2 separate regions of the Homo sapiens genome follow, and region 1 is linked to region 2. Evidence: fine-mapped expression QTL. A gene starts in region 2. The other region holds a variant in brackets. All regions are shown on one strand. Distances are between the middles of the regions.

Evidence for each region.
Region 1: its variant is fine-mapped to the expression of TMEM14A in aorta (GTEx, PIP above 0.99).

What each region holds. Positions count from the first base shown.
Region 1 is chr6:52,714,467-52,730,624 of GRCh38, reverse strand. No RefSeq gene overlaps it. Among named protein-coding and RNA genes, the nearest start is that of GSTA2, 41 kb to the left of the region's middle. RefSeq lists silencers at 5,970-6,019, 8,068-8,182. The variant T/C (reference allele first, on the strand shown) is at 7,772.
Region 2 is chr6:52,662,200-52,678,357 of GRCh38, reverse strand. It overlaps TMEM14A (transmembrane protein 14A), which reads right to left and starts at 7,245. Exons shown (of 5, transcript NM_014051.4): 1 at 7,113-7,245; 2 at 1,186-1,271. The coding sequence starts at 1,255. LOC730101 (a long non-coding RNA gene) reads right to left here and starts at 13,957. Exons shown (of 3, transcript NR_024405.1): 1 at 12,939-13,957; 2 at 11,840-11,969; 3 at 9,205-11,609. RefSeq lists enhancers at 2,540-3,100, 7,381-7,540, 7,529-8,029, 13,382-13,501, 13,873-14,167 and 1 more and a silencer at 13,873-14,167.

The DNA.
Region 1 (16,158 bases), 52 kb before region 2:
TGCTCTGTCACCCAGGCTGGAGTGCAGTGGCACGATCTCCACTCACTGTAACCTCCACCTCCCGGGTTCACGCCATTCTCCTGCCTCAGCCACCCAAGTAGCTGGGACTACAGGTGCCCACCACTAAGCCTGGCTAATTTTTTGTATTTTTAGTAGAGACAGGGTTTCACCGTGTTAGCCAGGATGGTCTCGATCTCCTGACCTCATGATCCGCCCACCTTGGCCTCCCAAGAGATAAGACTTTTAAAGCCGAACCCAGTCATGGGTTTGTGTCCTCAAATACCTGTGAGTTGGGTGATCCTCTCCACTTGAAGTCCCAAGATAAACTCAGAGCTTCCAGACCTGTTAGAACATGACGTTCTTTACTGACCACAGAACCTGTGCCCTTTTAAAAACTGAATGTTGCGTATGCATCCTAAAGAAGCTGAAGTTAATAAATTCCTCTCTCATTTACAAAAGCAATTACAGCTAATTGGCCACAGGGTGGTTGACTCCTAGTGGTCTATATCATGGTCTGGGGGATGCAGTCCTTGGTGGAAAGCTCTCTTAGTAAGGCTTTTGGGAATTGGTGATTTTAGGTCTTGTCATGTGCATCTGTATTTACTGTTGGTGTAGGTTTTGTTGGCAGTGTTTCATAAACTTAGGGGCAAAGGACCTTATAGGAGATCCCACCCTTTTCTGCCTGCTTAGGAAACATCACAAAAAAGGTGGCCCTGTGAAATTGTAAGAGCCAGTCAGAGAGGTAGACTGTAGGGTCCTCCAGTTCCCTTGCTTTCTTTCTGTGTCCTGACTGCAAATCAGAGTGCCTTGGCCACTCCATGACCCAACCAGCTGCAGGTTTTTCCCAGCAGGCTTAAAGCTAAACCAGGGCCTTGAACATTTGCAGACACTGATAAAGATATCTAGGTTGTTGCTCCAAATACAAAAAGAAACTGGTCCTGGTTCTGAGCCAAACTCCTTAAAGTTTCACATGGATTCCATACCCTGACCCCCTCACTGCGGACTTTTCTAGGTAGAACATGCCTTTTCTTTCATCTGTCATGAGGACTGCTGCAGTACTGTAAGTTCCCCTAGTAAATGCAGTGGACTGATCAACTTAGCATTTAGTGCTTCTTTCTTTGGAATCCCAACTGGCCCACCTCAGAATGAAATTGTGGGAATTCACCTCTGCCACTTTTGGGGTAGTCCAGCCTTCAGTTTGGTGGGATGAAAAAATAAGTAGTAATAAGAAATGATCTCCTTATAAGGACATCAGGAATTGGATTGGGAGCCACCCTTATCCAGTGTGACTTCATCTTAACTAGATTACACCTCCAGAGACCTTATTTGTATCTGGGGTTAGGACTTGAACATACTCAACATACTCTTCTTGGGGAACAAAATTTAACTCACAACTCCATGCTAAGGGATGAGATAATGCTGGGGGTGCACCTGGTCAGGCCACCTCAGCTGGACTCCATGGGTCAGAGGTGGATTCTCAGGGAGGGCAGTCATATCTGACTTGAGATTTGCAGGCAAGACGAGTTGCAGTTATGAGGTAGAGCTATAGTTGGGCAGCAGGGGTGGAATCCTGATGGAGGCTCAGCACGGTTAATGGTGTAAAAGAGAGAGACTGAGCAAGGTGTATTCAAAGAAAGAGAAGACAGTCTGAGTGAAGCATTAAAGCACGAGGTAGCAGGAGTGATGATGAGGTAGGATCCGGGAACAAGGCCCGCAGGCCTAAGGACTTTGAAGGCCATGACAAGAAGTTTGAATTTTGTCCTGAGAAAAGAGGGAGCTGTGGAAGTATACAACTTGCTTTGCCAAACTGGCATCAATAAAATAAAATCACAGCTTTTAAATATTCATTTTCAGTCACTTAAGCATCCATCTCAGAATAGCAAGAACATTCTTTCCCTCTGGGAGTCTCTTTCCTATGTTAAAAGATAAACGTAGGCACATTAAAATTTTAAAGAGTTTATTTTGAGCAGACAGACATTCATGAATCGGGCAGTGCCAAACCACAAGCAATTTGGACTTCATGGAGGGGGTGTGAGGGGAGAACTTTGATAACGTGTTTATGGAAGCAAAACAAAGAAAATATTTGCTTGGTTAAGGTGAAAAGTCACTAGTTAGAAGTTAGTTGGCAGTTTCTGATAGGTTAAGTTTAAGTTTCTTGTTTTCCTAGGATATGACCTTCATGCTGAGTTGAGCTTTAGCTTGCTTACATAAGACTCAAGGCACTGGGGACATCTCAGCCTACTGGCCTCCTAATTAATTAATACCCACATTAAATCCAACAACCTAGGGGCTTATTCCATTCAAGGAGTCAAGTAGCCCTGACACCAGTAGAAAATTCTATCAGTCTCTGCTGCTATCTGCCACATGGAGTTCCTGTTGTCCCATAGACTTCATGATCTGAGGCGGTTTGGTTGAAACACTGGCCACAATTTGTCCACATGAGTCCCAGAATCTTCATTCTCTGTCCCTTCACAAGAAGAAAGAGGAAGTCTCCCTCCCTGCTATCCCTCAGGCCTGGGATCTCAAAATGTAGGTGGATATATAGAGTCATTTTTCTCTGGCATGCCACTGTCCAGGAGAGATGAGGATGGAGCAATTTCTAGCTTCAGCCATGTACTAAGCCCATAACTTATGCTTCCCCAGAAAATCTAAGATCTAGGGGGTTAGACCCAGGGCACTGGTCCCGATTGCACATTTTCATAATGTGAGCTTTGCCACAATTAGGTGTGTTAGGACAGACAGAGACATGGGACTCATGGCTCATGTCTTCTACGTCTACTGAGGGTTAGGTCAATTCAGACCAACCAAGATATTCCAAGATATCTTCCTAAGAGTTTCCCAGTTCCCTTTGCACATTTACCTGCTCCCTCTTCAGCAGATAAATATCCCAACGGTAGACTCTTATACTCTCACTCTGCAATAGAGTTTTCAACCTGATCATACCCAGCCTTCCCCAGTTTACAAGAGATATTTTATAATTTATTATTATTATTATCATCCTGAAGTGAACCTTGTAAGATTTACCTCACAATGGTTGCTGCTGGGAATACAAGATGAATAAGGTATAATAATCCTAGCCTTTGAGGGGTGCATAATTAACCCCAAGGAAAAAGATTTGCATATAAAGAATTACGAGTCAATATGTAAATTTGTATTAAAGAAGTTCCTGCAGGTGGCAAAATGACCACTCAAAAAGAGTGGCTGAAGAGGCCAGGTGCAGTCGCTCATGCCTGTAATCCCAGCACTTTGGGAGGCTGAGGCGAGTGAATAAGTTGAGGTTAGGAGTTTGAGATCAGCCTGACCAACGAGGCAAAACCCTGTCTCTACTAAAAATACAAAAATTACCCGGCATGGTGCCGCACACCTCTAGTCTCAGCTATTCTGGAGGCGGAGGCAAGAGAATCGCTTGAGCCAGGAGGTGGAGGTTGCAATGAACCAAGATTGTGCCACTGCACTCCAGCGTGGGTGACAGAGCGAGACTCCATCTCAAAAAAAACCAACCAAACAAACAAAAAGAGTGGCTGAAGAAAGTTTAATGAAATACCTATTGTATTAGTCTGACCTCATGCTGCTACGAAGAAATACCCAAGACTAGGTAATTTATAAAGGAAAGAGGTTTAATTGACTCACAGTTTCACATGGCTGGACAGGCCTCAGGAAACTTACAATCACGGTAGAAGGCACCTCTTTACGGGCAGCAAGGGAGAGAATGAATGCCCAGAGAATGGGGAAGCCCCTTATAAAACCATCAGGTCTTGTGAGAACTAACTCACTATCATAACAGAATGGGGGAAACTGCCCCCATGATCCAATTATCTCCACATGGTCCCTCCCATGACACATGCGGATTATGAGAACTACAAGTCAAGCTGAGAATTCGGTGGGGACACAGCCAAACCATATCACCTATTTACAAACTGGGGAAGGGTTAAACTACTACAACGGATGATGAAGCACTCTGGGGCTCTCCTTTCCCTGGCCTTCATTGAGACAAGAGCAGAAAGCAGTTCAGGGATCTAGGAAAACACTGAGAGTCACAGCTGCAGGAAAAGTCTGCACCAACAGGAGCTGATGGCTTTCATAGAGAGAGATCCACTGTCAACCTAAGTAGCCCTGAAGACACGGTCAGTTTATAAATGACTGGACATTATGACAATAATTTATTACTGATTTGCTATAAAGTGTTATCCATTTTATGCTATATATAGTTTAGCATAGCTAGAAAATAAAGGGAAATTTATTTTTAATTTTGGGTATATATACAGATTTATATATTATATTTACCATACCAGATGTTAAACATTCTGACTATCACTCCTGGGTAGTCTGTGACATAAAAGTATGAAGATTTTTGTTAAGAAGTAATTAACATTTGGTATTTAATACTTACACCATCCGCCATTTTAATAGTGAGTTTATATATATATGTGTGTGTGTGTGTGTATAACTGAAGTGGATATTAATTTCTCTGCACTGGGGGAATTGGGTCAATATTTGAGCCATTAGGTATACTGACTTGCCAGTTTTCTGGGATATTCTTGAAGAACAAATATGTTTTAGCAACATTCTGCCAATTAGAGCTGCTTAGATGAGGCAGCTGTGAGTCAGCACAAATTTAATCTGTGTTGACTTTGCTCTGCCTTGCCTCCTACCTTTCTCCAATCTTTACTCACCTTCCCTCTGCACACAGCAGCTGTTTCAATATATTTGTCCTTTGAAACTTTGAATACAGTTGCAACATTCTAAGTCAACAGGGCAGCTAAGTATACCTAGCAGAAAAATTAGACTTTAACCTCAGAAATTGACAAAATCTTCTCAAGGATTATGGTTCCAATAAATACTGTTTAAAGTATTTTATTCATAGTTCTATTCAATAAAAGTTTATAGAGCACCTACTTTGTTCCCTGAATTGTTTTAGGCACAGAGAATGCCAGGAAAGACTAAGTCCTGAATGACAGGAACCAGAAGATCCAGTGAGCGAGGGTCTTAGTCAGAGGGAACAATGAGACAGGGTGTTGGTCAGGAACAAGTTGGGTGTGTTTTAGGTACACTAGTGTTGTGGGAGCAAGGCGAGGAAGTATTGAAAGATGAGGCCAGCATGGGTGTATTAGTTATCAATTGTTATATACCAACTCACCCCGAAGTTTAGGGACTTAAAGCAATAAATATTTATTATCTCACACAATTTCTGAAGGTCAGGAATCTGGGAGCAGCTTAGCCGGGTGGTTCTGAATCAGCATTTCTCAGGACGCTGCAATCAAGTCACTAACAGGCTGTGTCAGCTGAGGGCTTGACTGGGATCTGTTTCCATGATGGCTCACTCACATGGCTGTTGGCAGAGGCCTCAGTTCCTCTCTGAAAGTTGGCAATACATCTCACTTCTTTGGCATGCCTGCTTCTGTGTAGGACTGCTTGAGTGTCCTCAGGACATGGCAGCTAACTTCCCCTGGAGTATGTAAGCAAGAGGGAAACTACAATGTCTTTTATGACCTAGTATTGGAAGTTACACCTCTGATGATAGAGAAGGGCTGAGGACATCGCCTCGGGGGAGATAGCAGTTGGAGAAGAGAAGGCTGGGTGGAGCCAGCGAAGGCGTCTGAAGAGGAGGGGTCAGTGAAGTAGAAGGAAGTCCAAGAAAGTGTGGCATCATGAGGCCAACAGTCCGGCAAGAGGATGGAAGAGTGGACATTGAATTTGGTACCACGGAGGCTACTGCTGACCCGAGGAGAGAAGATGGGGACACAAGCCTGACTGGAGTGGGTTGAGGAGAAAATGGGACGTGAGGTAGAGGAGACAGCAGCTACCGGCAGCCGTTTTGAGAAATTTTGCTCCGAAAAAGGGCATATGGTTGGGACAGTAGACTTTCTCAGTGATCTAAAAGAGGAAGGGAAGGTTGAGTAGGCTGAGCTCAGTTTCATTTGCAATTGTGGAAAGTCACCTAAGAGTGGCTGAGTCTGTGCACTGAACTCTTTACAGCCACCAGGGAGGTCCCTTGGCTCTGGGCAGTGCGCCATCTGGTGCTCAGTCATGGAGTCAGCGTTAGACTGACACAGTAGGTTGGGCAATCCCTTTGCTGGAACAGAGACTTTTTTTCTCATAAATTTTAAATCCAAGTTGGAGTAAATTGCCAAAAGAACAACTAAAAAATGCTGACTGAAAGGCAGAGGTGCAAAGTTCTCCTCACTTCCTTTTAACCCCTTCCAATTTATTCCATTTTGTCTTTCTTATTCCCTCATCCTCTTCACCTTAATCCATGAGTCTCTCTGTATTTCCTTTTCCACTGTCCATTTCTATGACGCAGAATCTAACGATGCAGCTACAAGCCAAGAAACACCAAAGATTGCTGGCAGCCACCAGAAACCAAGAGAGAGGCTGGGAACAGATTCTCCCTTAGAGCTTCCAGAAAGAACCAGCTTTGCTGACCTCTGGATTCTGGACTTCTAGCCTCTAGACATGTGCAAGAATAATTTCTGCTGTCTAAGCCACCTAGTTTGTGGTAATTTGTTAGAGTGGCCACAGGAAAAGAATTCAACTACTTTGCAATAAAAAAAGGAATGAATACATAAAAAAGCACAGATGAATTTTGAAATAATTGTGCTGTGTGAAAGACACCAAACAAACAAAATACCTGCTGTATGCTTCTAATTATATAAACTTCTAGAAAATGCAAACTAACTCATTGTGACAAAAAGCAGATGAGTGGTATGGGGCCAGGCAGAAGAAAGGGATTTCCAAAGGGCATGAGGATGTGAATAAGTTCAGTATCATGATTATGATGATAGTCTCATAGGTGTATATGTGTGTTAAAACTTATCCAATTGAGGCTGGGTGTGGTGGCTCACTCCTGTAATCCTAGCACTTTGGGAAGCCAAAGCAGACGGATCACTTGAGGCCAGGAGTTCAAGACCAGCCTGGCCAACATGGTAAAACCCCATTTCTACTAAAAATACAAAAATTAGCTGGGTGTGGTGGCACACTCCTGTAGTCCCAGCTACTTGGGAGGCTGAGGCATGAGAATCACTTGGACTCAGGAGGTGGAGGTTGTAGTGAGCTGAGGTCACACCACTGCATTCCAGCCTGGAGGCAACAGAGCGAGTCTCGTCTCAAAAACAAAAACAAAACTGAAAAACTTATCCAGTTGTACACTTAACTCTGTACACTTTGTTTTTTTTTTGAGACAGTGTCTCGCTCTTGTCGCCCAGACTGGAGTGCAGTGGCCTGATCTCAGCTCACTGCAACCTCCTTCTCCCAGGTTCAAGTGATTCTCCTGCCTCAGCCTCCCAAGTAGCTGGGATTACAGGCGCCCACCACCACGCCCAGCTAATTTTTTGTATTTTTAGTAGAGATGGGGTTTTGCCATGTTGGCCAGGCTGGTCTCAATATTTCATATATATATAATATATTGCATATAATACATTATATAAAATACACATATATTTTAAAGTATCAATTATATCCCCTAATACAGTAATAAAACCAATAGATGCAAATAAACAATCACAAATCTATTATGTACATAAGCAAGCTGTACAATCCTTCTGCTCTCCAGCTGGTCTCTTCAGCTGCCTCTGTCCTTTGGAAGGCTTCCTTCTGCTTAGAAACAGGCCCAGGCCTCCACTGTCCTAACCTTCTTAGCCATGCACCCACACTCCTCAGAAGAAACCAAGAAACACTCCACAACAAATTTTTAAAGTTCTTTATCCTTGGCTAGTTTTCCCTTTTGCTATTTCCTTCTTTCTTTTCACGTCCAAAACTTGAGTAGTCTGCATTC[T/C]AGCTCTACTTCCTCTCTCAAAGTCTTGAATTTTAAATTCTTTTTTTTTTTTCCTTTGAGATGGAGTCTCGCTCTGTCGCCCAGGCTGGAGTGCAGTGGCACAATCTCGGCTCACTGCAAGCTCCGCCTCCCAGGTTCTCGCCACTCTCCTGCCTCAGCCTCCCGGGTACCTGGGACTACAGGCGCCCGCTACCACGCCCGGCTAATTTTTTGTATTTTTAGTAGAGACGGGGTTTCACCGTGTTAGCCAGGATGGTCTCGATCTCCTGACCTCGTGATCCTCCAGCCTCAGCCTCCCAAAGTACTGGGATTGTAAGCATGAGCCACCACGCCCGGCCAAATTTTAATTTCTTAATCAATGAACTAATCATCTTAGTTCTATGAGTTTCAAGGTCTTTTCTCAGTCTATCTTTAACTTTTATACTGCAAATACCAGGCCAAGCTCCCTTTCCATCAGCAACTTTCTGCCGCAGTCTCCCACCCTTCACCAAGCACTAGTGCTCAGATTTTCCTGTGGCTCATTTTTTCTTAGTTTCATGATTTATATATCTTCTTTGCCAACATGTTGTCACATGGATCCCACCCAGTCCTGCTTCATGTCAAAAGGCCAGGATTTTCTTGAAATAAATAACAAGTTATTAAGGACAGCCCTCCTGCCTCCATAGCACAGTCCTGTGAAGAAAGCTATGAAAAGATTACCGAGGCTGACATTGGGTAGTGAACACAGTATTTAGCAGGGCAACTTGGATGTGCCTCCAGAATGGCATGACCACTATTCCACTCATTGCACTCCACTCCTTATCTTGAAATGTTCTCCCCACTGCTCTCTGCCAGTCTGTATCAACTTCTTCTCCATCATGACACCTTCACAAATACTGGACATTCCAACAAGGGGTCTTTGTAGATCTGTGTTTCTTTCCATGCTGCTCCCACGTCCTCAAGTGATAGTTTTGTCATTCTAATATTGGGGAAGATATGGAAGAGGATGGCAGTAGTGGTGGAGAAGCAGCTCTCACACAGTAGGAAGGTGGCTATTACGTATTGTAGGTGAAAGCCAGGACTCATGCATCTGAGATGAGGATGCACTGAAGCTGGTTAAAATTCTGTTATTATACATCCTCAGCCTATTGTTCTACCTCAAGACCCATGCATGCTTTCTTCTAAGGTTGCCCTCAATACTGGTTGTTCTGGTATTGTAAGGAAACAAAGAAGGAAGAATCAAGCATCAAAACTCAACACCTCTAGTTCTCCCCTTTAGTTTACAGATGAAAGCACTGGGGTTCAGAGAGGTTGAGATTTATCTAAGGACACAAAGCTGATCAATGGTAGAATCAGCCTAGAACCCAGGTCTTCAGAATCACTAGCAAGAGCCTTTTCCATTTATCCATTGATTCAGCAAATAATTTTTTTAGTTCTAATCTATAAAATGTTGCACTAGGACAGAGATACAGTGCTGAACAAGATGGGACAAAGGCCTTTGACCTCAAGGAATTCACATTGTAGTGGGAGGAGACAGACTACAAACAAAAAAGAAAGAGTGATAAATATCTCAATAATTATAGCCTATGATTGGGATGTGAAGAAAATTAAGCAGGGACTATGTATTAGACTGTTCTCAGGCTGCTAATTAAAAGACACACCCAAGCCTGGATAATTTATAGAGGAAAAAGGTTTAATAGACTCACAGTTCCACATGCCTGGGAAGGCCTCACAATCAGGGAGGAAGGCTAAAGGCATGTCTTACGCTGCAGCAGTCAAGAGAGAATGGGAACCAAGTGAAAGGGGTTTCCCTTTATAAAACCATCAGATTTCGTGAGACGTATTCACTACCACGAGAACAGTATGAGAAAAATGCTCCCGTGATTCAGTTATCTCCCAGCGGGTCCTTCCCACAACATGTGGGAATTATGGGAGCTACAATTTAAGATTTGGGTGGGGACAGAGCTAAACCATATCAGACTATAATAGAGAGTAGTTGGGGAGAGCTTTACTTTAGATGGATGGTGAGGGAAACATAAAAATTGAGAGAAAACTAAGTATGCAAAGAGATGGAAGGGAGGTTTTGGGGCAAAGGAACCAGCATTTTCACAGGTTTGAAGAGAGAAAGTACTCAGTGTCTCTGTGTACCCCAAGCCCCTGGAGCTTGGCTGAAGAGTAGAGGGCAGAGGTGTGGCTTGAGGAGGGGGGTGGGAGGTGGTAGATGACTCACTGCTGTAAGTCCCGTCAAGGAGTATGGATTTTATTCTAGGTGAAATGGGAATCCAAAGGCTGGCCCTCTTCCATGCAGATTTTGCCCAGAAGACACAGTATTTTGGGAGGTATGGTTCCACACTACAGCTATTTGAAAGCATAACTGAAACTTATGAGGAAAAATCCATCTGCTTCTGTACCAAAAAAAGAATGAAGATAAAACTGAAAATCAGTCATAGTGTGTGGATTTGCCAAACTAAATTAAATTACTTTTCTGGAGTCTAGTGGATAAGTGTCTTAGTCCATTCAGTGGCTGGAATAAAATGCCGTAAACTGAGGTGTTTATAAACAACAGAAATTAATTTCTCACAGTTCTGGATGCTGAGAAGTCCGAGGTCAAGGCTCAGGCAGGTGTCTGGTGAGGGCCTGTTTCTTCGTAGACGGTGTATTAGTCCGTTCTCACACCACTATAAAAATACTGCCCAAGACTGGGTAATTTATATAGGAAAGAGGTTTAATTGACTCACAGTTTCACAAGGCTGGGGAGGCCTCAGGAAACTTACAATTACAGCAGAAGGCAAAAGGGAAGCAAGGCCCTTCTTCACATGGTGGCAGGAGACAGAAGTGCAAGCGGAGGAAATACCAAACACATAAAACCATCAGATATCGTGAGAACTCACTCACTATCATGAGAATAGCATGGGGGAAACTGTTCCCATGATCAGATCACTTCCCTCCCTTGACACATGGGGATTACAATTCAAGATGAGATTTGGGTGAGGACACAGAGCCAAACCATATCAGACAGTGCCTTCTTACTGAGTCCTCACATGGTAGAAGGGGCCAGCAAACTCCCTTGGGCCTCATTTATAATGGCCCTAAAGGCACTAATTCCATTCATGAGGCTCTGTCCTCATGACCTAGGCACCTCCCAAAGGCCCCACTTCTTAATGGCATCACCTTGGAGATTAGGTTTCAACATATGAATTTTAGGGGGACACAAACATTCAGACCATAGCAATAAGAATGTTGGTAAAATTTCTAAAATAAATGAATTATGCTGACACAAACAGGGCAGCTACTAACTCATAACTATAACTGAGACTGCTATTTGCCAGATACAGCTCACAGAGAAGGTAAATGTCAATCGAAACATTTTAACAGAACAATTTAAATATACTCCAAGAGCATCCCCCTTAAACTCACCAAATCATTTCAAAACTAAAAGCAGACCTGTGAATGTGGTTAATTGCCTCTAATATCATGTTTTATAAGTTAGTATTTTTATGTTAAGTTTTCTTAAAATGAAGCTTCCAGTATAAGGATGCCTGTTTGAACTTAAACATATGGTCCACACACATACACATACATGAAGAAAACGTGTACCAAATGTTTAAGGGCTGAATTGCACTGAATTATGAAGTTCCATGATTTAAGATTCACAATTTTAAAACATTGGATTAATATGTAACATGTCATTGGGACTTCTTACAAAAAGAATTGATTTTGCTTAATTTTTTTTCAATACAGTTTAAATAAACTAACTTGTTTGCTTATCTAGCTATCTCCGATTATTTTACAAAGCTTTATTTTCCACTGTTGGTAACAATTTAGTAACTAGTGCCAAGCAATGTCCTGCAAGGAGAGTGAAGTGCAGACCTTTCTAAGTGAGACCAGTATGTGCCGAGGCACCATCTTCATGGGAGCAAAAAAATCCCACTTTATATCACAAGCAGGATATAAAGATTTTCTATAAACCAGAAAATATGTATTCAATATTCAAGGAACCATGAGCTTGTACTGTGTGCTAGCTTACTGGATTGACTTTTTAATGTAATGGAAAGTCTTTATTCTTCCTCTGAAATTGCCCAAGAATCCTCATTACTAAAAGCCAGTTTGAGTAGAAAGCAGAATGGAGGCATAATGCCAAGATGACTGATGATACATTTCCAGAATCCTAGGCTGAGGATAAACATAATTTTAAAAGGCATGTAATTACTGGTCTATTTAATTCCTTTTATTCTTACACCTGTTAAAGATGGAATTATTGCCTTTGATTTTTTATTTTAGAGGCACACTTGAAAGCTGTGAAATTACCTACTTAGCAGCTTTGCCTGCTTGCTAAAGTTCTTCTGGTTAGAACAAGGTAAATGCAGAGTAATTACTTCTCATCTCTCCTTTTTTGCAAATAGGTAGAGGGAAATGATTGATGTTCATAGTCTATTGAGTCTTTTTTTTAATAATTTCCCTCAAATAAAAGATAGATTTGGAAGTAGTTACAAAAGGAAAGAAAGAGCTAGAGAAAGCTGGTGCAAGATGATATTCTATTAATACCGATTGCTTGGAGCTCTGTTTGATGCCATTTGACTGAGGAAGTCACCACTTTCTCTCAAGCAAAAAGTTCAGTTGTTAAAAATGCAGGAAATATTCTAGAATGTGCTTACTATATGCTTAAAACTTAAGTCACAGATACTGAGAATTATTTTCAATTTATCCTAAGCTTAAAATAAAGCGAGAGCTTACATTAAAGCCAAAATCACAACTAAAATGATTTAAAATGAATTAACCTGATTTATTCAGTTATAGCTAAATACTCTCATTATTCTCTCACCTCAAATCAATAATAGATACTAATTTGAATGAATAGGCTAGAGATTTGCCATTCTATTCTAGATGTATAAATAATTTTTAGAATAATAGACATATGAACACACACTATGAAAAATATATTTCTAAATAAATTAGCAGTCTGTTTCTCATGTTTCAAACTTTCATTTTGAGTTTATTTGAATTTTTTTGGGGGGGAGTGGATAGGGTCTCACTCTGACACTCAGGCTAGAGTACAGTGGTGTGATTATGGCTTACTGCAGCCTCTGCCGTAAGAGATCCTCCTGTGCTCAAGTGATCCACCTCAGCCTCCCTAGTAGCTGGGACTACTGGCACTCACCACCACACCTGGCCAATTTTTGTATTTTTTCTGTAGAGACAGGGTTTCACCATGTTGGCCAGGCTGGTGTCAAAGTCCTGGGCTCAAGTGATCTGCCCGCATTGGTCTCCCAAAGTGCTGGGATTACAGGCCTGAGACGTTGCACTTAGCTTATTTGAATTCTTTGTAGCTCTTTTTTGGTTACATGGTTAATTGAAGTCGTTTCATATAAATTACTTAGTTTTGATTTGTACTTTTATATAATTGTATGTTCTTCAAATTATCAGAATGATAATACATCTTTTTGAAGATGACCCACTCATAACCTAGCTTCATTTTATTTTAGGAGAGAAACACTCAATAAAAGCCCCTAAAAGTCAGGACATTTTGACTTGAAATATTTAATCCAGGCAATAAAGCTAGACACTTGGATTTAGAATTTAAGATTTAGAAAAGCTTCAAACATTGTCAGTCTTGCTTTTTCAGAATAAATCTTATTCAGGCCATCTTTCTGGGATTCTAAAACTCAGATCTCTCAGAGCCTCAGATATCGTTGTGAAGAACAGACTTTTTAATACAAAACAAGATAATATTCCCTCTGCTCCTTGTAATATAAATGCATTTGTTGTGCAGCTTACTTTTTTTTATAATTGATATTGTACAGATTGTTAAAATTGATTATAAGCAATGTCCACTCTGGAAAGGAAACATTGTGTTATAAATGGAAAGAGAGACGAATTGGTTCACAAATTCAAGTGTGCAAGACTGTATATTTCTAAAACTGAGTTTTGTTGTGAAGAACAGACTTTTGAATACAAAACAAGACAATATTCCCTCTGCTCCCTATGATATAAATGCATTTGTTGTGTGGCTTATTTTCTTTTTTTAATTGATATTTTACAGATTATTAAAATTGATTCTAAGCAATGTCCACTCTGAAAGCGAAACATTGTGTTCTATGTGGAGAGAGAGATGAGTCAGTTCACAAATATATTTCTAAAACTGAGTTTAATTTCTATTTTGAGTCCCATTTCATCAGGTAACATAAACCAAATTTAACCCAACTAAATCTGTTGGGTCTCTTCCCCAACACACATGCTCAATTTTTTCTAGGGTTCCATCTAAGTTCCTATCCTGTCCTCAACAGACATCTGTCCACACAGGAGCCTGCCAAGACATTCTCATTCCCATCTAGTCTCTAGGTGATAGTCTTTGCAGATGACTGCAATACCCACTTCATTAACACCACCAGGTCTGTTTCATTTGGAACTGTACATTGCTGGAACAAGGAGAGCTCTGAGGCTGTCTCAAGCCTATCAGCCTAGGCACAGCACCCAGGCATTTCTACTTAATGCTAGTGAGTCATCTGAGTTTTCAAGAAGTAATACAATGTTTCCCATGGTCTCAGATACCCTAAACTGTACTGGGAGCCTGGCATGTCTTATCTGCCTCCTCCAAAATTTGATGAGTCTGATGTGAGAAAAGAGAAGGGTTTCCTATCAACTTGAGTGTCTACAGTCTCTTTCTTCCCCCTGTAACTCTCTTCCTCTACCTCATTTCCAGAGGGTAGCTACACTGTTCACCAATTCTTCTAAATCATTTGTTTTTGGCACTTGCTGATTGGAAATAGCAGTAAATTCTTTGGCCTTTCTCCTAAAGAGAGGTGGGGTATAATTCCCTCCCCTTGGGTCTGGGCTGACCTTGGTGACTTACTTAAAACCAACAGTACCAACAGTATGATGACAATACCACCGTGTGACTTTTGAAGCTAGATCAGAAGAAGTCTTGCAGTTTCTGCTTTGGTCTCTAAACACTCACTCTCCACATGCTTCCTCCAGGACCCAGCCACCATGGCTGTGAGAAGCCCAAGCAATGTCCAGAGGCCACAGATGAGTACTTTAGTCAAGAGCTCCAGCTGAGCTCTTAGCCAAAAGGCAGCATCCATTGCCAGCCTATGAGGAAGCCTCTCAGATGCTCAGCACACACAAGCCTTCGGTTGGTTCCTGTTCCAGTCAACATCTGACTGACACTTCATGAAAGACCTGAGGCAAGAATCACTCAGCCGAGCCCTTCCCAATTCCCAAACCACGAAATTGTGAGCAAATTTAAATGACTGTTTTAAGCTACTGAATTTTGGTGTAATGTTTTATGCAGCAATAGATAATCAGAACATGGAATATATTTTGCACATTTTGAGGCTCAAAATCCAGGCTTTTGCAACTCCAAAGTCTCAGCATTTTCATTTATCTGATACTCGATGAGTTGGGAATTTGCAAACTGATTCATCTCTTTCTCCATATATAACACATTTCCTTTCCAGAGTGGACATTGCTTAGAATCAATTTTAACAATCTGTACAATATCAGTTATTAACTGGGAGAATTAACTTGGAGAGACAATGGGTAGATGGAAATGTGATGAATAGCGTGGGGCTCCAGTGGATGGAATCCTTGGTTGCCTCTAGACATTCTCCCACTGCAAGGGTATGTGTGACATGTTATATGTGAGTGAAGTGTTTTTTGTGTTTCCTACAAAAAGGGATAGGTTTTTATCCTTTAAATAGAAAAAGGCTGGGTGTGGTAGCTCATGCCTGTAATCCCAGCACTTTGGGAGGCCAAGGTGGTCAGATCACTTGAGGTCAGGAGGTCGAGACCAGCTTGGCCAAAATGGCGAAACCCCATCTCTACTAAAAATACAAAAAATTAGCTGGGCGTGGTGGCGCATGCCTGTAATCCCAGCTACTCGGGAGGCTGACGTATGAGAATCGCTTGATCCTAGGAGACTGAGATTGCAGTGAGCCGAAGTCGTACCACTGCATTCCAGCCTGGGTGACAGAGCAAAATTTTGTCTCAAAAAAAAAAAAAAAAAGAAAAGAAAAAAAGGAAAAGAAAAAGATTATTAGAAGGCTGATATGAAAAGCAATATAACTATCATAATTTAGCTATTCTCAGGGTTTGGAGCATGCTGGGACTATAAGAACTCTGCAGTGGCAGGTGGCGGGGAGGGAATCAATTCAGATGGTGTGCACACCCACTTTTGTCAAACACTGTTTAGGGAGTAAGTACTAGGCTTGTAAAGGAACCTTGGAGAAAGTAGCACAGCAATTCAACTGATGAATGAGCAGGTTCTACTCATTTCTCTTTTATAGGTGCTGGCAGATAATGAACAACATGCTTTCCAGATCCAAGGAAGAGTTGATTCATAAGGCTCTTCCCAGTTTAATGCAATGATGCACTGCAATTACATTTCTTGGTGCCCTCTTTCAATCTCC
Region 2 (16,158 bases):
CACACACACACACACACACACACACACAAACACACACATACACACACTCTCTATATCTCTCTCCCCACTTTCTTTCCACCTCTCATAAAGGCAGGCAAAAATGCCCAGATGTTCTTTTCTGTTCTGTAATAGAAGTTATTTAGACATTGTCTTTGACAGTGAAAATTTTTTTTCAAAAACAATCTTAGCATTTTAAACTGAGTTCTTTCTAAAGTAGATTGTGAAACATCAACCTCTGAGTACTTGGTTTACAGGTCTTACTTTGGTGCCATCATCTTTTTTTTTCCTTCAAATACACATCTCTAATACATACATTAAGACAGAAACAACGAACAAAAATCCAAGGTGAATTACAGGCTTTAAGGAATCGTAGATGATGGTCAATTCTACCTGCCAGCCCCCCAGCTACAAGAGCTATACGGTGCTTCTGGTCTTTGACTTCTTAGCAGCCTTTAAGGAAGGAAGCTAACTGGTAACCATGTAGACCTGGCTTTTTCACTCAAATTCAAGTCAACCACTGCCACAAATACAATACCCTTTGAAATAAAAAACTTCATTTAAAAAATGTCATTAAAACGTAAGAGACAGTTTGTCAGAAAGATGACTAAAGGTTGTGTATATATATGAAACATAACTAGGAGACATCATAACTATAAATGATTCTAAAATAAAAGTAAAATAAAAAAATTTGACCTTTCCTTTTTCTCCATGAAAACTCTTTAATTGATTACCTGAGTTTTTTTCCCCCCTCTTTTGGACAAAGGTGAAGAGACAACTTTGGATATGATAACTGAATATTTAACAATGTTTTCATTACAACACACAGGATCAATATAACTCAGTTTTTTGGTACCACGATTATGTAAAGCAAAAAAAAAAAATCCTCATTTAATAATAAGCAGTGGTCCTGAGGGAGATTAAATCAATTAACTATGCAACTGATGATGAAGTGAAGTGAGAGTTTTGTGGTGGAAGAGAGGCCCAGAACCCCCAGGTTGGAACACTCTGTCATGCTCAGCCCCACGGAAGCCTCTTCCTTTCATGAGTCCCTTCCAAGACACGCTGGTCTTCAGCCACCTCTAAGGCATCTTTAGCTTCTCATCCTACTTACAGAGCCTCACATGACCTAGCACAACCTCCAAACCCCCACTAATTCCCTTTCATGAAAATTTGGGTTAGGCTTACCTCTCCGCTTATATCCAAAAATGCTTCCAAATGTCACGAGGGCTGCATAACCAAAACCGATCAGGTCCATTGGCAAGGTTGCAATTCTAAAGCAAGGGGGAAAGGACAAATTATACAAAATAAAAAAGTTTTGGGGAGGGAATGTATCTAAAAATGATACGCTTATATGGTTTGGCTGTGTGTCCCCACCCAAATTTCATGTTGAATTGTGATCCTGAGTGTTGGAGGTGGGGCCTGGTGGGAGGTGACTGGATCACGGGGGTGGCTGCTAATGGTTTAGCAACATCCCCCTAGTGCTGTTCCATGATCTAAAGTTCTCACAAGATCTGGATGTTTGAAAGCGTGTAGCACTTCCCCCTTCACGTGCTCTCCCCCTCCTGTCGCCATGTGAAGACATGCTTGCTTCCCCTTTGCCTTCCACCATGATTATAAGTTTCCTGAGGCTTCTCCAGCCACGCCTCCTGTACAGCCTGCGGAAGTTGAGTTGATTAAACCTCTTTTCTTCATAAATTACCGAGTCTCAGGTAGTTATTTAGAGCAGTGTGAGAATGACTAATACAAAGACATTCCACAGAATTACAGAAATTAATTTCTCTAGTCTACTAAAGAAAGGGAAGTTCGGCCAGGCATGGTGCTCACGCCTGTAATCCTAGTACTTGGGAAGACCAAGGCAGGTAGATGGCTTAAACCCAGGAATTTGAGACCAACCTGATCAACATGGCAAAACCCCATCTCTAGTAAAAATACAAAAAATTAGCTGGGTGTGATGGCATGCACGTGTGATCCCAGCTACTCAGGATGCTGAGTTGGGAGGATTGCTTGAGCCCTGGAGGTTGAGGTTGCAATGAGCCGTGATTGTGCCACTGCACTCCAGCCTGGATGACAGAGTGACACCCTGTCTCAAGGGAAAAAAGAGGTTCAAACTTCACCTCTCCCAACCCTCTACTTTCCCCTTCATCCTCATCACTGTTAAGCACACTCTGGGGGGTACCTCAAGCTGATTCTCCTCTGCCTGTCTTCAAGATCTGCCATACTCTCAGCTGTTCAATTCTTTCCACTTACCCAAATAAAACTTCTGCTCTGGTCAGCCAGGTCTCTTCACTGAACTGTGACACTACAATCTTCACTTTTCACTTCCATGCCTGAAATGTCCTCCCTCCCTGTCCACCTCCAAAAGCCCGACTATCCCCTGTATGCCACCTCCCTTTAAACCTTCTCCCCTGACTTCTACCCTTATTAATTACCTCCTAATTTCCTTGACTCTAGTCTGTACTATCAAAGTGATCTGGAGCAAATGCCTTCTTCCTCCTCTAAATTCCTTAACTTCCACAATTCCATCTTATAATTCTTTCATGTCTGTACAGATATTAGTCCTCTCATTCTTTACAGATGGATGTCTTCTTGGAGATTGACTAATTCAGTTTAAACAATGGCTTTGTCATTAGTTTCCTTGCAAGATAGCTCTTCTGTGGTAGCAGAGACATCCACACTTAATCAATGGCAAATCACTAAAGAATACAATATAGCCCCAGCATGAAGTTAAATGGATGACAATGACATCCTACTGTGCATCATAGCAGCAGCTGAAACATACCCAGTGGTGAGAAGTTCCACTGAAACCCTGCCCACAATTCTCTCAGATGCAGTAGATAGCGTGCCAGCCACAGGCTAGAGATGTGGCCACTGGGCCTCAGACCATGCCCCTCCCTCACCCTCAACTCTCCCTGCAAGTTAGGAGAATAGATGAAAAGAGTTCTGGAGTTCTTTACAGCTTTTTAAGTTCTAAGACCCCTAGTGGTGCCTTTATTTCTGAGCTTTCTCACGTCTATATTTCTTCCACAGGGAAGGTAATTATCTTTGTAAATGTGAGGAATGGTAAGTGAGATTCCTTGCATATTTTTACAATTTTCTCATTGCTTATCATTTAGGTTAATGGGCCTTTTATCTCCCATTATCAATTGGTAATAAATTAATGTAGAACATAAAAAGGGGCCAGGCGAGGTAGCTCACGCCTGTAATCCCAGCACTTTGGAAGGCAGAGGCTGGTGGATCACTTCAGGTCAGGAGTTTGAGACCAGCCCAGTCAACATGGTGAAACCCCTTCTCTACTAAATATACAACAAATTACCCGGACGTGGCATGGTGGTGCATGTCTGTAATCCCAGCTACTCAGGAGGCTGAGACCGGAAAATCCCTTGAACCTGCGAGGCAGAGGTTGCAATCAACTGTGATCGTGCCACTGCACTCCAGCCTGGGCGTCTCAAAAAAAAAAAAAAAAAAAAAGAAGAAGAATTTTGAGCTGATCTCAGAGTCATCCACTAGAACTTACTATGAGGAAGGGTATGGGGGAGGGAAGCTGAGGCACAGGAGATGACAGCACCAAAAAGGAGGCAACACTGAAAAATGCTCATCATCTGCAGGAAGGAGAATTAAAACAGGAGAGCTCATCTGTGGCCGAGAAGTGGTACAGTAGGATGTAGCATGTAGGGAGAACCTGGGTCCAAAAACCATTTGCTGACTGAATGATGGCTAAACAAATAATAATAATAAAGAGGTTATAATGTTTTTGAGCAATTACTATGTGCTAGGTGCCATTCTAAGGCATTCTAGGTGCCTTATGTGTATCAACTCATGTAATCATGACCACACCCTATGGTATGTACTGTCATGATTATCCTCATTTTCCAGATGAGGAAAGTGGCACACAGAGAATGCAAGCAATGCCTGAAGGTTATACAGCAAAACAAAGATCTCTGACTTAGGGAAGTCTCAGTCCTAACCTCTATGCAACATCACCTCTGATAACTGAGTTAGCTGCTGAAAAAAAGCGAACATGTAAACCAAACATGTTCTTCAGAGTTTTCAATTCTGGATCAATCACATGCTCTTCATAGCTTAAAGTTGTGACCACAGGGCACTGTGTTCCATCTGGTAACTTACAATGTTCAGCCCCATGAACTTCTCATGTTTGATCCTACTTATTATCTTTCTAAAGGAGCTAACCATATGCTATAAAGTATGCTTATCTTCAAACCTGATACCACCACTTACTAGCTGTGGAACCTCAATAACTCAGTTTCTCCATCTTTAAAATAGGGATAACAAAAATATCTACCTTATAGGATTGTTCTGAGAATTAAATGATTTAATACTGTAAAGCACTTAGAACAGTGCCTGCACATACTGAGCACTCAACAAATATTAGCTGCTCCAATGATTACTCTTCTCATTCACCCTTACACCTATTTTAAGCTTGACATGTGTAAGGCTATTACTATTTCAGCACACTGAGAAAACTGAGGTAGGGTGAATTTGTAATTTAGTTAATGAATCATACCATAGTATTATAACATATATTTGTAGTCAATTCGACTTAACAGCTATTTATTTAGCATTTTCTTTAGGCAAGGCAGCAGGAAGCAATGGTAAGTGCTAAGACATGGCCTTGGTCCTCCAGGAACTATAGTACAACACAGCTGTAGGAGGCAGATGTGTGAATGAGCCCTAAGAGGAGAGGTGTGGGTACCATAACAAGGAGTGGCACCCAGCAAGGACTGGGAGCCTAAGGATGCCCAGATCAAACAGGGTCCCAGCTGGGACCTTGGAGAGATGTTGTGCCAAACCCCTATTAACCTCAATAAGGAAGGCAACAGGTTCAAGAGGCCAAAAGAGACCCATTAGGGGCTTACAAACAGAGGAGGGAGTCCAGTGGTGGTGAGCTGGGCAGGAAAACAACCGCTTGCAAACATCATGCAATTTATGCAGCATTTTCACTTAACACCCTCCCCTCAATGACCTCTACCTGGCAACTTGATTTAACTCAAAATTCAAGGCCTCAATTCCCCGTATGGCCCCTGTTCTATGGGACAGGTGGGGCAGGGGCTCAGATGTTCTTCATAGACAAGAAATAAATCTCTGGGTTGGGCAGGCCTGGGTTCCCTAGTTCAGAAAACACATTCAGGTTCATCTGCCACACAGGGTCATTCTAAGGGTATGCTTTAATTATTGCTGTCAGGTGCATTTACCCTACAGGGGAGCATGAATAAGTCAAGTGAAGAGGGTGCAGGGAAGGGTGTTCCTGGCAGAAGGGAGCGCATGTGCAAGGCCCTAATGGCACAAGAAAGCATGTTCTCAAAATGAAAAGTGCAAGGGGCTTGTGAAAAGAGAGGGTGCTGGTGAGAAAGACAGGGCTGTACACCCACATAAGCCCCGTAAAGGGAGTCTGGTTCCGTCCTAAGGGCAATGAAGGATCACTGAAGGGAGCCTCACAATCAGATTTAAATTCCAGCAAGCACTTCCCAGTTGCAGTAGTGAAGATGGGTTGTGAAGTGAGGCAGGGAGATAAATCGGGAAGCTGTTGCAGTAAAGTAAGCAAGAGCTTAGTTGATAACGGTAGGCTTATCTAGAGAAATGGCAATGAGAATGGAGAGAAGGTGGACAGATTTCAGAAGTTCAGGAGGTAGAATCAGAATTGAATTTGAGGCGGGAAGGGAAAGTCAGGGGTGAATCAGAGATGACTCACCCCTAGGTATCTGGCTTAGACCATTAGGAGAAGTAGGGAGTCGGGGAGCCTCATGCTATTCCCTGAGACAGAGAACATGGGAACAGCAGCAGGTGTGTGGCGGTGGGAAGAGGGAGGTGGCTAGGAATGATGGGACCTGTTTAGAATGTATTCAGTCTGAGACGCCCAACACACAGTCCGGAAAACACCCTTACATACAGATCTGAAGCTTATGAGAGTTCTTTCATTATCAGGTGTAACTTCTAGACCTAATTTTCTCCTAAAGCTAAGTAGCTGTTGTGAAAGATTAATTCCACTCCATCCTGAGCCCCCCAGCTCTTCCTGCGATCTTCTCTTGAGGACCCATACCCTTTTACTTGGTTGGGATTCTCTCAACTCTCAGCCAGCCAAGCTCCTTGAGGGCAAACCAAGGTTCAGTTTATCTTTGTCCTCCTCACAGCACCAAGAACCCTGCCATGCACAAGGCAGGTACTTAAAATACTTGTTAAATGAATAAATGAGTGAGTGAACCAAAGGAACAGCTTCTGCCTGAAGACATTCTGTAACTGACCTACCCAATACAGCTTTATTGCCAGGAAACAGGTAGCCCCTTAATCTCCTTAGCGAACTGACTGTTGTTCTAAAGAGGCAAAATAAATCTACTCCCAATGCTTGCAAGAAGATTCTGTTCTCACAGAGAATATTCAGACAAAAGAATCACCTATTCCATGACGGAGCCATGTGGCCAGGCCAGAAGCACACATTAAAGCCAGAGGCTGTGTTAACATGGAAGGGATAAGGTGGGAGAGGATGTGCACAGCACATCACACGCTCTCATCACAAATGTGATGCTCAAGCCTTGGAAGGACTAAAACGCATCTTGGATGCAATGCAGCAAAACGATTTACCATACCAGGTACAAAACAAGGTGACAGGGGACAGCCTCGCTGCCCGCCCCAAATCCTCCAAAATTCGGAGAATTAAGAGATTTTCGGTGAACTGTTACATAAAAAGCATTTTCACATGCTAAAGATATAACAATTACCTACCCTTGAGCTCTTGGAGGGCACAAAAGGCACATTTTCGAGTGGGGTCTGGGTGGTGCTGAGAAGGTTAAAATCCTGCCAAGCATTTTGCAATGGTCCATGAGCCCACCCCACCACCCCAGATCCAGGAAGGTAGGAGGCAGGATAGGTGGGATATTTAGGGATACCAGAAGGCAGAAACTCGGGAGGAGGAGAAAAATGATACCGCGGAGGTAAGACCGATGCCCTGCAAAATCCCCTCAAGGTCCTCTGCATCATCGTTTGCTGTACAGGTTTGGCGCGGGGGAGGGGATGCCCGCTAAGCAACGCCCCTTATATTTCTGCAGTTTTGTAAGAAAATTCAGAGCAGGAAGGTCTCCATTGCGGGATGCACAGCTCACCTGCAGCCCCGAGCCTTCACTGCAGCTGAAAAGACAGAAGTCTGGGGCCAGCTGCCGCCAAGCGCGGTACCTGGAGTCCGGAAGCAGTCTCCGCACCAGCGCTGTCCCACTCGGCGCCCAGCCGTCTCGCGCTGAGCAAAGGCCGCTCCCTCCTGGAAACGCCCTCCCTGCCGCGCGCATGCGCTGTGTCCCTTCTCGCCTTGCAGGACTCCACCCGGTCCATGCCCTCCGGCTGAATCCGGGCGGCCTGTAGGCCAGGCAGCCAGGAGGCCCTGTGCTGCAACATCCCGGCGGCAGCCGGACCCGTTGCTCCGTCTATCCTGCCTTCGGCCCTGTCCTGGAGCCAGGGCTGGGGTTTGCTGCCTCCCGCCTGACGGAGCAGGACTGGCAGGAAGCGTGTTTGCAAGAAGCCAAAATTACAGAAGGCGAAGATTTTTAAATTAACTCCATTCATCTTTCAAGGGACATTTCCAGAACCTCCAAAAGGCAACCCGAGGTCTTCTACACACCCTCCAGCAGACTGTCCCCACTGTCAGTGGAGGGAGCTAAGGTTCAGTGAGGTCAAGTGACTTAGTTGTCCCAGGTCAAAATCCAAGTTTGCCTGGTGTCAAAGCCCAAGCACCCTTCATTACACTATGGGATCATCTAGATGTGGTTGGGAGACGAGGATCCTAGTTTTAAACTTCAGGCCCAGGATTTGCTGGGTTTAGATATCTACTGGGAAAGGTATAGAATTCCAGAGTTGGAAAGCACTTAAAACCTTGCCTAATGCAAGGCAATCCGCTCAATCCCAGGAACGAAACTTAAACTGACCTTATTTTTTTTTTAAATACAGGATCTCAGTCGGTCGCCCAGGCTGGAGTGCAGTGGCACCATCCCGTCTCACTGCAACCTCTGCCTCCTGCCTCCTGGGTTCAAGCGATTCTCCAGCCTCAACCTCCCAAGTAGCTGGGATTACAGGTGTGTGCCACCTCACCCGACTATTTTTTTTTTGTAGAGACGGGGTTTCACTGTGTTGCCCAGGATGGTCTTGAATTCCTGAGCTCAAAGCAATCCTCCCGCCTCTGCCTCCCAAAGTGCTGGGATTACAGTTTAAATTGACTTTAAATTATGCCTCCCTGTAGCAACTTATCATCTCAATCTTCTGCCTTCTTGATTGAATACAGAACTCCGACCCTCTTCCTTATGTAACAGCCCTTTGGAGATTTGAAGAAGGTTGTCATAGTGAAGTAGCTCTAGAGGTTCTGTGTCACTGAGAATTACAGCGGAATTCCTCAGAATAAAAAAGGAAACTCAAAAATTAAATCTTGTGAAGTTTGTTTGCTACATCTATTCTTTGTGCATAAAAGTGCTTCAGGGAAGTAATATAACTACATCTAACTTATGAAAGTCTAAGTTGGTCCTGGGGAATTAATAAAATTCCTGAAGATTCACAGAAGAGTTGATGGCAAGGCACTGGAATGTGGCGTGGAGAAAGTGATAGCCTGAAATTTGGTTCTGAGTTCTCTCAGCCCTCCTTTCCATCCCCTTCTATGCCCATCCTTACCCCAGCCTCCTCACCTTCTCTCCTCACACTCTCAGAACACTTACCCTATTTGGAATAAAACTAAAATCCTCTTGGAATACTTCATTATCTTCATCTGATGTGACCTGGGTAAATAACTCCCCTCTGGACCTCAGTGCCTGGATTTAAGATATGGACAAGACTAGATGCTCTGAGATCCCTTACACCCTATCACCAACATACTCGAAGCTGGAAACAGCCTCATGATATTCCTACTCAAGGCGTATCACCTAAAACTAAAGAAAAACTCTTTGAATATTATGGGAATTCCATACCCTTGAATATGTGGGAACAGGATGGTTCTTAGGCAAAGGGACCACTGCCCTCTCAACTCATAGGCACCAGCTGCTGCCTTCTCCAGCTAATGGAAAGGCTGCAGCCCAAGGTAAGGATGCAGGAAAGCCTATTCCCCTCAACTGTTTTGTAAAGCTTTCTATGCATGATCCACAGCAGAGACTCTTAACTTTCAATGTGTCACCAACCTCTTTGGCAGTCTGGAGAAATGCACAAAATAAAATACACAGGATTGCAAAGGAAGCCAATTTTATTGAAATGCAATTTCATTGAAATCAAATTCTTAAACATTTAAATCTGTCACATAATAGATGTGCTTCTTTATTAACATATTAAAGATTACAAGACCTAGGGGGTGGATCTAATTATTACCATAATTTCAGAGTGGTGCTGTACATAAATATTTTAAGATATCTGTAACGTGGATATCTGTGATTCCTAGTGATGACAGAGACACAGGTACTAATACTGCTGTGGTTTGTTGCCTATTTTCCTGATGGAAATAAATAAAAACTTTTTTCCATCGAAGTTTTCAGATTTCCTGATTTCTATCCTCTGGCCCCTTTAGATTCACAGATTCCAATTTAAGAACTCCCAGTCTATAATAATGCAAGTTTTCGTAAGTTGTACATAGATGGAATCAGAGAAATGGAAGTAAGGTGAAGAGCCTCACTGACTGGCTGGCTGCTCAGGCAGGGCCTCACGGGATGGTTACACCCTGTGGATCCTGAGCCTGCTCCTCATTTTCAAATGTTCAGAAACTCAGTTTGTCTCAGTTCTTCTGGGGGCACCCTGGCTTTTGAGAGACAGATTCATAAAAATCAGAGTCACAAGGGACTTACTGATTTTTTTAAGGCCCACTTCAGATTCTTGATTTTTTTCTCCTTTCAGATTTCAAACAATGTCAAAGGACATTATTCTTGTCCTTTGAAAATATGATCTTATGGCAGGCCAACATTTTAGCATCGTTTCTATGGCTCACTTACAATGACAGCCATCTTGCAGGCACACGTCTAAAGAGGTTACCTTCCATTTCTGTGAAGTCAAAAATCTCCATAAGTGCTTTTGCACTTTTTGAGGAAATTGAAAAGTAACCAAAAGCTTTCATTATGAAAGTCTCAATGTCACATTTAAGCAACTCACATCCCTTTTTAGCAGTGTTGTATATAAGATGTACAAGGCATTGAATGGATAAGATCTTTTCATTTTCTTTGGTAAGAAGTTTGTAGACTGAATGCAATTTGCCAAAATTTTACATCTATACTGTCTGACGAATACACAGATAGATGAGCTAAGTCTAGTTTGTATTTAGACAAAATATCAACAATATTTTATGATTTCAGCAGTTTCATTAAAATCCTCACAGAAATGAAGAAGATGATTTGAAACTCCTGTTTTCAAGTCAAAGTACCTAACAGCTAGAGGGAACATATTTTTGCTGCCATGATTTGGCATATTACTTAAAATTGATGTACTGTAGAAACCAGGATTGTTGGTGAGATATGACAGAAATTGGCTTTATACTGTAAGGAGCCAACACATCTGTTATCAAAAAATTTCCCTTCTTCTTTGTCCAGAGGATATTTTAGCTGCAATTCTTGAATCAGGAAATGAAACTTTACTCAGTTTCATAGAGCAATCAAGGGAACGCTATGACAATGCAGGCTTATTTGCCTGGTATGCCCATGCTAATTCAGCAGCTGCTATTTTTGACTGAGCATTGGTGTCTTTTGGGGAAACAAAGGTATTTTTGATTGGTTTAGAAGCATTCACCTGTCCCATCTTACTTGTGAGATTTGCCCTCCATATGTGCTTGCACATCCCCTTCTCCACCATGTCCAATCTCAAATTTTTTTCTGTATATTATGTAGTATGCTCTGTTTTGGTTATTTACCTTCCTAGTTCAGTAGTATGTGTCCTTCCATCCATCATCAAAATTACATAGTCGTTTAGCCTTCTTCTTCAGTGATGGGGTCATGGTTGCATTGGTATTATAACCATTCTCATTATCTGACCTCTTAGAAAACATGGTCACAATATTCACAATGTTAAAAAATTAAACTAGCACTATCTTGTTACAAAGCACACCAATTAATCCACAGGCAAAGTCGAAGATGAACTATTAATAATCATTATATACACTTAAGCCACATCACTTTGAATGATGCAACGATGGATGGATGACCATTCTGAACTACAAATTATGGTTGCCAGTATCAGTGGTCAAATGGGTGACAACAAGTAAAGATGAATAATCTGTGCCGTATCCATTTGATAGACAATGTTGCTTTCAGACCCTCTAAAACTTACGGGTTTTGTGCATTTCCTCCAACCTTCCACACTTTGTTGCTAAAACCAGGATTATTTACATTCCAGGGAAGGGTCTCCCAGGACACAATGCTCTCAATGCTAAAATGGGATGGTTGGTTACCCTATTGGGTTGCCATTAACCAAAGGGCTACCTCTCCAGAGGCAGGAGGGGAGGCACATGGAGGTAGAGACTCCTCACCTTGCTTCCACTGATGGTGTTAAATTTCTCCAGAATATTTCTCACAGGTTCCTCTTCTTTGGGGGGTGACGAAAACAAGACATTGTCTTTTGTTAGACTTTGGATCCACTGAAAGTTCAATGGCCTCCATCTGGAAACACAGGCAAAGCTCAGGGCCAATGCCTTCCCCTGGCTCAGGCCCTAAAGGGAACTCAGAAAAGGCGGCCCTCCAAAGGCAAGAAAGGAGGTGAGAGCAGCTCCACTGACAACTCCACCAGCCAAGGAAAACAGAAAAAAGCATCCACTGGTGGCTGGTGGGGAGCATAAACCATATCCTGGGGAGAAATTCACCTCCCCAAACTCACCAAAGTACTCCCTTACCTTCTCCTCAGTGGCTTTGGGAGTTCAGGTGCCCTGCAAAGATTTTCTTCACAGGATATTTCTTCATGACAGTGGCTTTTTGGGGGTCCATGCTATGGCAGCCCAGCCTGTGCTCCTTCTGCTCTAGGATCTGTTCCAACAGAAGGGTAAGTGGATCAATCATCCAGATTTGCCAAGGACTAAGGGGTTTGGGGACTTTCAGGGCTAAAACCAGAAGTAAGGAGTTTCCTAGGAAGCAGGACTGTCAGTGCTAAAACCACAGCTAAGGGATTTCCCAGGATGAGGGACTTTTAGCATTAAAACTGGGACGGTTCAGTTTCCCAAGATGTAAGACTTTCAGTGCTAAAACCTGGACAATTTCTTCTGAGAAGGGGGTTAAGTAGACTCTGGTTCTAATTCTGTTTGGCATTTCTTAGTAGCATTACCCGAGGCAGGTTCTTTCTTTCTGAGCCACAAGATTCTACCACAGGTGGAATACACAAACTACAGGTGCACAAAATATTTTATCCCCTCCAAACACACCACCCTCTACCTAAGCCTGACTTCCCAATTTTCTCCAAAACAGAAATCCACCTGGTTTACCTCAACACATATAAATCGGTCCTCACTCCCTCTGAACCTTTTGTCCATGCTCTGAGTTTTCTTCCTGGCCTGACAGTCCCAGTCTAAGACTTGCTTCCTCCAGACATAAAGCTGCGCTACAGGGTTGGAATCCTTGCTGTTCCACGCTTTACTCACTATGTGGTCTCTTCTAGTTGCTTAATCCTCTCTGCATCTTAGTTTTTCCTTCTGTAAAATGGCACTGAAATGCTTATCTAAGAATCTTTGGGTGTTTTTCTAATCCTTATATGTGAAGCATTTAGTGCAGGGGCCCAAACAGGTACTAAATGTCCACTCTCCCCTTCCTGGACCACTCCCGCCCATATATTTAATACTTTTCACTTCCCACTTAATCCATACAGGAACAAGTTCCTAAACTCTGCTTCCCCCAGTGCACTTGGCCACATGCAGCTCAGACAAAATGATCATGATCCAGGAATGCCTTCTCTTGGAAATGCAATCCTGCACACACAGACCTTTGATGGAATACACAGCTTACCTTCTCTACGGGGGCTGCAGCTTTCAAGATAGCAAACGTCAACCCTCTTGGTCTTCCAGTGTTGGGATTCATTTTGGGGGATGGTCCACGACCTCTTCAATTGTGGTGAAACAGTCTTTTGGGTCCTTTTTGCTGGTATCCCAGCTCTGGTTCATTGGTGAGACGAACGGTAGGGTGAGACACATGGCCACGAGAAGTCTTACGACAAAGCCATGCGCTTAGAAAGTCTTACAAGAAAGGCAAGAGTTTGGGAGGGCTGGATTTCCCAAAGCTTTCACTGGGAGGATTACAAATAAAGCTACCACCCATGGCAAAGTGTCTACACCCACCCACTCTGGGTCTGCAAAGATTCTACCTCCGACAGCTGTTCACAAATCTACTCTACCTCCTTACTGAGATCCACCTTGGTCCTAACAGAACTTAACATCACCACAAACCCCCAGGGTGGGAGAGGAAAAGGAAAGGCAACCTCTCAGGGCGCAGGCCCCATGCACTCGTCACAGGTGGAAGTTAGTCTAAAAACCCTCTTATCAAAGGGCTGTCGTCTCTTCTATCCCTGTCTTCCCCGGCGCTTAGGTGTCGCTCTCAAGGAACTCGGTCTTCCTGGGCAGAGCCCGCGGTCAGATCCTGACTCCGAGCCCAGGTGGAGGGAAGGAGAGAAGAGGAAGGGAGGGATGGGAAGCCTTGCCCGGGTCGGAGCGCACATCCTCCTCCCGAGTCTCCGCTCTCTCCCCTGGGCGGCTCCTGGACGGCGCAGACGTCGATCCCACAGGTCCAGCCAACTCCCACAGCACCTGCCCCGCGTCCCCCTAGTTCTTGCCGCCGTTCTGGTTGGCCTTGGCGCCGTTCTGGCCCCGCCCCGGCGACCCGCCGTCGGCGGCTGCCTCGTATGGGTTCTCGGTGGCGCCCGTAGTCCCCAAGACCTTCTTCCTCTAACTTGCTTCTAACACACCCGGCAGGGGAGCAACCGCCTCAGCCTGGGACAGCCCGGCTTTGTGGGAGCAGCGGGCGCGCTTTATAAGGTCCGAGTTAGGGGACGGACCCACCTTGCCCAAACTACATGTTTATTGGCTAGTTTTGCCTGACACTCAGCCAGGCACCGCTGTCCCATTGGCCGCGCTCTAAATCCCGCGGATTTGTCCTCTAGCAACGTCTCAGAGCCAGGACCCTGGAGAGGGTCCAAGAGATCCCGCGGAAGGATTGCAGGGGCAGGTCCAGGGCCAAGAGGCTCCCATGCGCCCTCCGCCCGCCGAGCCCGCAGCCTCTCGACCCCGCGCGTCTGTGTCAAGGCATGGCCAAAGTGAGAAAGAGCCAAGACAAAACAAGTTCAAATAGCAATAGCAAAACAACCAAAAGGAAATTCAAGGAAAGCAAATATAAATGAGAAAAATATAATTAAGCAAAAATGAATGTTCGCAAAGGCAAGACAAAAAACCAAGTCAAGGAGTAGGTTCAAAGAAAAGATGAAACGTGAATATAATTTAGGATATTTATACCGATTCCTATTGAAATCTCGACAAGTAAAAATTTTACTGTCAGTGAATCAAACTTTCATCCTTCTTGCCTTTCCTATGAAAGGGCAGCAGGGGGCACTAGATGCTAGGGTTTGATTCGGCTAGGAAAGGCGTTTTAGCACGTTATTTGCAAACACAAAATAGTGTTCTGTTAAAGTTCAGAGATAGTTATAAAAGTTAACAGGAAGTGGGGAAACTAGAGTGATGGTCTACAATCTGGGATGTTAAAGAGACTGAATACAGTCACAGGTTCTTAGTTTCTGTTTCTGGCTGGGCCAGTAAAGCCCCTTCCTCATCCCTCTTTTCAGCTTCATTAGAGACAGAAACTAAAAACCACGGCTTCAGGCTGCTAAAAGCCTAAAACAAAACAAAACAGAACAACAACGACAACAGAATAAGGCGGGTTGGACAAGCTTAGTACATAGAAGAATGTGCGAAAAAGGTATATGATTTCTGTACACCCTGTTGGCTAAGTAGTACAGTGTCCTGAAATACTGGGAGGGTGGCAATTACAAAGAGTAAGGGGCAGTTTTTCAGAGGTGAGCTCTGAAAAAGATGCAGGACAGTGGAGAGTGACCACCAGGGCGCCAGGCTGACTCTCTGTCCTCAGCCTGCCATATGGACCCGTTTTGAACTTTTACCAAGGCCATGGGACTTTCCATGCTAAAACCAGGACCGAGGGTTTCCCAGACAAGGGACTTTCCTATAAGCAATAATGGTTACAATAACAACAACAACAAACAACAAACACTTAATGAGTACCTATTGTGTGCCAGGAACTATTCTAAGCATTTTACAAGTATCAACTCTTAATCTTCACAACAACCCTTGAGGTAGATACTCTATCCTCCCTACCTTACAGAGGTGGAAACTGAGGCAACTCACCAAAGGTCATGCAAACAGCTAAGAAGTGTCAGATCCAGGCTTTTTGCTTGTTTTTTGTTTTTGTTTTTGTTTTGAGAACGGAGTCTCACTCAGTCTCCCAGGTTGAAGTGCAGTGGTGCGATCTCAGCTCACTGCAACCTCTGTCTCCCAGATTCAAGCGATTCTCATGCCTCAGCCTCGCGAGTAGCTGGGATTACAGGCACTCGCCACCACGCCCGGCTAATGTTTGTATTTTTAGTAGAGATGGGGTATCACCATGTTGGCCAGGCTGGTCTCAAACTCCTGACCTCAAGTGATCTGCCCACCTCGGCCTCCCAGAGAGCTGGGATTATAGGTGTGAGCCACCGTGCCCGGCCCAGATCCAGGTTTAAGAAAAGTGTAGGTGTGCAGGCTCTGCTGTCATTCTGTCCGGGTTTAAGTCAAAGCTCCACCACATACATTAATACAGGAAAATACATAACATTATGACTAGCACGTAAGAGATACTCAATAGTATTTGCCATTATTATTAAAAAGAGTTGTCCCTGGTATCCAGAAGCTTAAACTTTAGTGGAAGAGGTTCATAAGAGTCTTAAAGCAGTAGTAGTGCTTATTGGATGGGTGAATGGAATAGATAATAAATGCATATAAGCATCCAGAGGAGGAACAGTTCTGAAATAGAGTGGTCAGGTATTCAATGTGGCACCCATTTAAAATTCTGCCTGAGCATCCTGCATGTCACCATTAGAAGGCAGCTTCTGCTTCTCAACAGCTTGAGCTAATCATTACAGTCTTGGTATTTGATGATCACAGGCATGTGTATGTTTAACTAAAATATACTC